Regions from separate parts of the Homo sapiens genome. Here region 2 is reported to be linked to region 1. The links are microRNA targets in miRTarBase. Many come from high-throughput screens and were not tested one by one. Region 1 holds a microRNA gene; the other region holds the end of a gene's coding sequence.
Evidence for each region. The annotated mature microRNA hsa-miR-3659 reads UGAGUGUUGUCUACGAGGGCA and lies in region 1 at 2,899-2,919, shown strand. An mRNA with a match to its seed (bases 2 to 7 or 8) in the 3' UTR can be bound and repressed. Matches are read on the target gene's strand: a 7mer-m8 pairs with bases 2 to 8, a 7mer-A1 pairs with bases 2 to 7 and ends in A, and an 8mer does both.

Region 2: miRTarBase lists PRSS12 as a target of hsa-miR-3659. Seed matches in the 3' UTR shown: 7mer-A1 at 844-850 and 7mer-A1 at 1,707-1,713.

The regions. Positions count from the first base shown.
Region 1 is chr1:38,086,391-38,090,938 of GRCh38, forward strand. MIR3659 (microRNA 3659) reads left to right here and starts at 2,841; the gene lies at 2,841-2,939. The region is part of intron 1 of MIR3659HG (MIR3659 host gene); the gene reads left to right.
Region 2 is chr4:118,279,376-118,282,375 of GRCh38, reverse strand. PRSS12 (serine protease 12) reads left to right here. Exons shown (of 13, transcript NM_003619.4): 13 at 133-2,338. The coding sequence ends at 440. It overlaps SNHG8 (small nucleolar RNA host gene 8), which reads right to left. Exons shown (of 3, transcript NR_034011.1): 2 at 2,945-2,987; 3 at 2,553-2,752. Among named protein-coding and RNA genes, the nearest start is that of SNORA24, 1.7 kb to the right of the region's middle.

The sequences.
Region 1 (4,548 bases):
AGAAAGACACAAGCCAGATAATCGCGCACGCACACACACACACACAACTGTAAATAACAACAGACTATGTAGTGTCCTTCAGGTTTTAGGCACTGGCTTGGTGCTTTACATATTTTAACTAATTTCGTCCTCACAACAACCCTATAATAGGGAGATACTATTATTATTCCCATTTTACAGACCAGGCAGTTGAGGCACAGAGAAGTTAGGTGACTTGCTCAAGGTTACACAGCTAGTAAGTGGCAGAGCCAGGATCTGAAATTAGGAAATATGCATTCTTTTTTTTTTTTTTTTTTTTTTTTGAGATGGAGTCTTGCTCTGTTGCCCAAGCTGGAGTGCAGTGGTGCGATGTCGGCTCACTGCAACCTTCGCCTTCTAGGTTCAAGCAATTCTGCCTCAGCCTCCCGAGTAGCTGGGATTACAGGCGTGCACTACCACACCCAGCCAATTTTTTGTGTGTTTTTGGTAGACCACGTTGGCCAGACTGGTCTCAAACTCCTGACCTCAAATGATTCGCCCACTTTGGCCTCCCAAAGTGCTGGGATTACAGGTATGAGCCACCACCCCCCGGCCACGGAAACATGCATTCTTAATGATGCACATTTGCAAACCACCGTGAGGTCCATCTCAGGAGGAGCTTGGATGGGGAGTGGGGAAGCCACTGGGGAGGGCAATGGGATTCAAGCTTCGAGAAGATCACTCTGGCTGCTGGGTGGAGGGCAGATGGGGGTCCAGACTGCAGGCTGTCAAAAGAGACCTGGTGAGAGATGACAGCGATGCGGCCTGGATTAGGGCAGGGGCAGTGGGCACCAGGAGAAGAGGGCAAGTTTGGGAGAGACGTAGGGCCTAGAATGGTGGCACCTGGTAGGTGAGTGGGTGTGGGAGGGTGCCTTAAGGTGGGGTTGAGGACTCTACCCTGTGTTTGGGAAGTGAGCCAACCAGCTGTGTCTCAGGTGCTCTCTCCACCTGCCCGGCAAGCCCACCTCGACTCTCCTGCTTCCTGGGGGAAGAGGTGGCCTGGGAGGCATGTGGGAGGCTTTCCATGACTGCTGAGCCCTAGCTTCCTGGAGCATCCCTCAGGGTTCGGGGAGAGTAGGTCACTGGTAAGTGGAGGAAGCCCCGAACCTGGCCTCAGACACAGATTTAAATCCTGACTCCTCTGATGAGCTGTGAGACGTTAGGGGAGTCACATATATCTCTGGACCTTAATTTCTTACGAAATTTGGGAAATGATGCCTGCCTCACTGGGCCTGCATACGACAATTAATATGGAAGTGGACTATGAAGGTGAGGGTGGAGGAGCTGTTTTGTTGTTGCTGTTCAATTGTATCATTTGAGGCTTCTTTCCACGTGGCAGGAGAGGTGGGCTGGTGGGAGGCTCGGGAGGCCTGGACGCCAGCCTCTAAGAGGTCACGGGATGGTGGACATGATCCCATGATGGGCCTCAGTCTCCGGATCTGGGATGTGAGCCCCCGATGGGAGGCAGAACAGCCAGGGTGGTCCTGCCAGGCAGGTGGAGAGAGTGCTGCTGCAAGAGTTAGGCGCTGAGACAGAGCTGGCCAGAAACAGCATCCCTCGTTCATTCCAAGTTCATTCACTCCTTTAACAGACATGCCACTGAACACCTGCACAGTGTCAGGCCCCATCCTAGGGGCTGCGATATGATGAGGAAACAAGGTCATTCAGGTTCTGGCTTTCTAAAGCTCATCGTACAGTGGGGGCAACAGATAGTAAAAAAATCAACAAGGAGGGTTGAAACAGCAAAATGTTCTATGAAGACAAAAAAACCAAAACCCAAACCCTGGTGATGTAAAAGAGGGTGAGGGGGAGAAGGGCTCCTTCAGATAGGGCGGTCAGGGGCAGTCAGGGGAGGTCTCCCGAGGTGGTGACAGGTGAGCTGAGGCTAGGCTGATGAGAAGTTTAGGGGAAGAGCGGGCAAGCTCAGGTGACTAGTGAGGAAGGAGGAGTGTGACAGGAGAGGCATGGAGAGATGGGAGAGAAGCCAGGTCAGGTGAGGCAGGAGAGAACGCGGTCATGCCAGGCTTTGCAGGCCCTTCTAAGGAGTGTGAACTTTGTTCTGAGAGCAATAGGAAGCCTTTGAAAGGTTTGAAGCAGGGCGTGACATAGTCTGATCCACTGTCTGGATGACTCCAGCTGCTGTGCAGCGAATGGATTGAATGGTGGGAGGGACTGTGATGCTTAGCGACCTCTGGCTGTGACGCCTGCCCCAGCCCTGCTGTGAGGATGCTCCACTCTGTCTGCTTAGGACTTACTTGCCTTCCACACTCTCCCCAGCCCTCTTCTGGGCCAGCAGCTCCAGGCTGTGCCAGAGTTCCCAGAAAGCACCAAGAATCTTGAGGCAGAGGACTGACTGGCTGGCCTGGGGAAGGCTTGGCAACCCAAGTGCAGGTACAGTGGGCATGGGTGTGGCTGCCCTGCCTGCCTCCACCCTCCATGCAGGACAGGTACCCCACGCCCACCCCCACCCCTCATGGGGCTTTTGAATTAAAAAGTCTTAACTTTTTCTTTTAAATGGCAGCTCTGTGTACTGTACATGGTAATTAATACATTAGCATTTATGCAAAATACCATCACAGCCGGGCTGGTATGTCAGCTGCCTTCCTGAGCTGCAAAAATGTGAGCGCCCCGAGGTACCTCAGACAGGCCCCCGCCCCTAGCAGACAGCTCTGTTTGACCTGCATCATTCACTAACCTGTCTCGGGGAGCCTGTCTACATGCACACATCTGTGTATGTTGGCCAATGTAAATGCTGCTTCTTGTGAGTGTCTGTGGTATGCATATGTGTCCTTGTGTGTGGATGCACACGTGCTGCTTGTGTCTCTACAAGCAGATACAAGGATGCCCTTGTACACAACACACGTGCTGCTTGTATAGACATGAGTGTTGTCTACGAGGGCATCCTTGTGTCTGTGTGTGTGCCTGTGTTGGTCTGGGCATGAGTGCATATGAGTCTATGGTTTTATATGTGTACATCTCAGAATGTGTGTGTATGTACATTTTGTTTTTTTTTCTTCCAGGTTGAAGCGATTCTCTTGCCTCAGTCTCCCCAGTAGCTGGGATTACAAGCACCTGCCAACACGCCTGGCTAATTTTTTAATTTTTAGTAGAGATGGGGTTTCACCATGTTGGCCAGTCTGGTCTCGAACTCCTGACCTCAAATGATCCGCCCACCTTGGCCTCCCAAATTGTTGGGATTACAGGCGTGAGTCACTGTACCTGGCTGTGTATGTACATTTCTGTGTGCCTGTTGTGCTTGTCTGCCGGTCTATGTATTTGTGACTGGGTGTGTCTGTGTGTTTCTGTGCATCCATGTGGGCTGTGCATGCATGTGCATATGTGCATGGATATGGATGTTCATGTTCATATGTGTATATCAGTGGCTGCCCACGCTTGAATGCCTCTGTGTGGGTCACTAGGTATGTCTGTGGGATCTGCTATTTGTGTCTGTGCATCTGTGTGTCAGTATGACTATGTGTGTGTCTCTGTATGTGCATTCCTATGCATGTCTCAATTTGTGTGTGTGTGTGCGCATGTGCGTGTGAAATGCTTGCTAGACTGACTGTGAAATGAAGTTGCAGCACAGTGGAAAGAACAACTCACTGGAGACAGTGACATGCGTATTCTCTGGACCCTGGGCACCCTGCCGCTGATGGGCTCACAGGGCAGTGGGAGAGATGAGCCCTTCAGTGGGCAGTGAGGACCCGGGTTACTGGTTGATGGCAGAGGCCAGCGCAGGGTGCTCCTCGGAAGCTCAGTTGGCCCTGAGTAGGAGTAGGGGTGAGGTGGGGTTGGGGAGAGTTTCTGAGGCGGCGGCTGTTGAGTGGGATCCTGGAGGGTGACTAGGAGTTAGCCAGATGAGAAGTAGAGTCTGAGGAGCACGGATGTGGCACTGTGACAGCACCTGGCCTGTTCAGAGAGGCTGGAGACCAGGAAGGAGCTCATTGTCAGGAGTCGGGGTAGCTGGACTAGACCACCCAGGGCGCATATCCTGAGGGAAGCGGGACTCACTGGAGGCCTTCAAGAAGGACAGGGTCATGGTCAGGGTAGAAATATCACTCTGCTTTCACAGTGAGGAAGGACTCAGAGGGATATGCCAGGAGACAGAGATTGGAGCCACGGCAGCAGGGGGAAAGGAAAGGGGATGGAATCAGAGGGTATTCCCGAGGTAAAACGATTAGTATCCAGAGATTGATTAGACAACAAAGTGAGGGGAGGGAGAGGGAGGAGCAGGAGTTGGGGGACATCCAGTTTGTGGCTGCAGAGATTGGATGGTTGATGAGGATGTTCACGGAGACAGTGAACACAGAAGGGTGAAGGGAAGAGTTTTCTTTGGAGGGAAGGTGATGAGTTTTAGACATCTTGAGTTTCAGATACCTATGAAATGTAATTTGTTCATTCATTCTTCATTCACTCATACATATACCATGTATCAGGCATTTGAGAAACCAAGATGAACGAGACAGAGAGACAGTGGAGTTTAGAAAGAATTACAAAGGCTCCGGAAGCTGGGACCACTGTAGGAGAAGG
Region 2 (3,000 bases), not on the chromosome of region 1:
GTCATTGCTCATTTTAAACTACACTAATGCCACAACAGGGATTTTATTTTCATAACTATTACATGCTCAGTAACTGTTAAATGTTGCGATGGTTATCTGGAATGCCACTAATCAGATGTTTGGTCTGAGTAGGACGAGCCTATTCAAGAACACTACAACAAGCAGCCATTCCCTTACTTCCTAAAAGGTTTTGTGAAGAACGTTATAAGGGTCGGTTTACAGGGAGAATGCTTTGTGCTGGAAACCTCCATGAACACAAACGCGTGGACAGCTGCCAGGGAGACAGCGGAGGACCACTCATGTGTGAACGGCCCGGAGAGAGCTGGGTGGTGTATGGGGTGACCTCCTGGGGGTATGGCTGTGGAGTCAAGGATTCTCCTGGTGTTTATACCAAAGTCTCAGCCTTTGTACCTTGGATAAAAAGTGTCACCAAACTGTAATTCTTCATGGAAACTTCAAAGCAGCATTTAAACAAATGGAAAACTTTGAACCCCCACTATTAGCACTCAGCAGAGATGACAACAAATGGCAAGATCTGTTTTTGCTTTGTGTTGTGGTAAAAAATTGTGTACCCCCTGCTGCTTTTGAGAAATTTGTGAACATTTTCAGAGGCCTCAGTGTAGTGGAAGTGATAATCCTTAAATGAACATTTTCTACCCTAATTTCACTGGAGTGACTTATTCTAAGCCTCATCTATCCCCTACCTATTTCTCAAAATCATTCTATGCTGATTTTACAAAAGATCATTTTTACATTTGAACTGAGAACCCCTTTTAATTGAATCAGTGGTGTCTGAAATCATATTAAATACCCACATTTGACATAAATGCGGTACCCTTTACTACACTCATGAGTGGCATATTTATGCTTAGGTCTTTTCAAAAGACTTGACAAGAAATCTTCATATTCTCTGTAGCCTTTGTCAAGTGAGGAAATCAGTGGTTAAAGAATTCCACTATAAACTTTTAGGCCTGAATAGGAGTAGTAAAGCCTCAAGGACATCTGCCTGTCACAATATATTCTCAAAGTGATCTGATATTTGGAAACAAGTATCCTTGTTGAGTACCAAGTGCTACAGAAACCATAAGATAAAAATACTTTCTACCTACAGCGTATAAACTAGCAAAATTTGAAAGGATTTCTGGTAACTAAATGCCAGCTGGACATACAACCTATTTTATCCAACACATTAACATATCTACTATATTTGCTTTTAACAAGCACCTCATCATAGTCCACGTTCCCCGACCATGATGTAAGAGTGCCACCCACTGACACTTCCCTGTAACTGACTTATACCTGCAGGTTTTCCCAAGCCCAACCTGATACAATCCAATCTTAAAATATACTAGTCAAAATGCTTTCCTGGCCTACACATTGAAAAGTTCTAATACATACAGCAGTTATAACATATGCCAGGCACTGCATTAGGCAGCTTTGCACATCACTGACAATTTGCAAAAGGCCAGTAAATCTTATGGTAGTAGCCCTTGTTTTCAAATGGGGGAAAACAGGCTTGCCTCAAAGTGAGACCAGTTGGTGAAACTGATTCCAAACTCCAGAAAAAATGCTGATTTTTTTCCCCATGGTTCTCCTACCTAAATGATTGGTTTCCCTATGGCTATTTCTCCAAGAGTTAAGGGATAGCTGCTTAACTATGCACCTTTACAGAACATTCTTAGCAGTAATGCTCAAATTTAAAAGGCACACTCAAGATACTTCCATGTCATGGATCCTTCCCCAGGTCCCAGTAGTATAAATATAGGGAAGAGGTTAGCATGAACTTACAAATTGTTTTAAGTAATCCTCTTGAATGCCAGTCATTAAAGGACTTTGCCCTTCTACATCAAATTACATCCTTTTCACAAATCCCCATTTCTGTAATAACTGGTGCAAACCTAAAGGTGCTTTATAGTTTTACTACTTTGCAGATTTGCAATGCTGCATATAATGCAGAAGAGCATTAAAAACTTTTGTAAAAACTCATGATTTTGATAAACTTTTAAAGTAGCGTTTATATGTAAATAGAACTACACATGGCACACACACTTGCACAAGGGCTTCAGAAAAACGTGCAATATAGGTGAGAAAAATGTCTATTGAAACTTTCTCACAGGCTGCCCTTATAATTAAACTAGTGTTGGGGCAAGCAACATCTGTTTCAAGTAGATCAGGGACTAGCAAACCTAAAAGGCAGCAAGCAGCCTGCAGTTTGCTCAATCCTTAAGAATACATGGTTCATACAACATGCTTTTACTATGTCTTAAGTGTGACTTTTGAAAGATACAAGTGTTCTGTGCATATTTGTGTAAATAAATACATAATTTTCCACCTTGTATAACTGCCTTAAATTTTTGTATGGTTTAAAAAGAGTCTGCTGTCTCCCTTGGGGGTAGCCTGGTAATTTTTATATTTTACATTTTTCACAAAGGCTGCAATTACCTTAGAACTGTACTCACACTACTTCCACATGAGCGTGTAACACTAAATAGGAGGTATTATGCTATTAACTACCTTTCCGTCTATTAATCACTCAGTCAAGGAACAATGAGTAGCCACATGAATTAAGCATTTTATTTAATTATCACGGACCACCTTAAATATTACTTTACAAAATTCAGGCCTATATTTAAAATAGGTGTCCTGATAACTTCCAGGATATTATTCGGAACACCCGTTTCCCCAACTACGATAAGTCCATTGCCGGATGCTGAATAAACTTCGCCCATTACCACTTGGATTTCTTGATAGTCTGCAAGAGAAAAAAAGCATTATAAAACTCCGAGCTGTGTACTTACCTCACTGTTTTGAGATCTTATCAGCTAATTCAGTTGGTTGTTAACTCAAACTACAAAAGCCAGCAAAACGGGCCAACTTTAGCTTTCCAACGTCCTGCCGCTAAGGCGTTTCAGATTAACTCAGAAATATCAAAAAAGAAATGTACCTTATGTTTCCATCATCCATCGTAATGTGTTCAGCTCAGCTTCCTAGAAACATTGA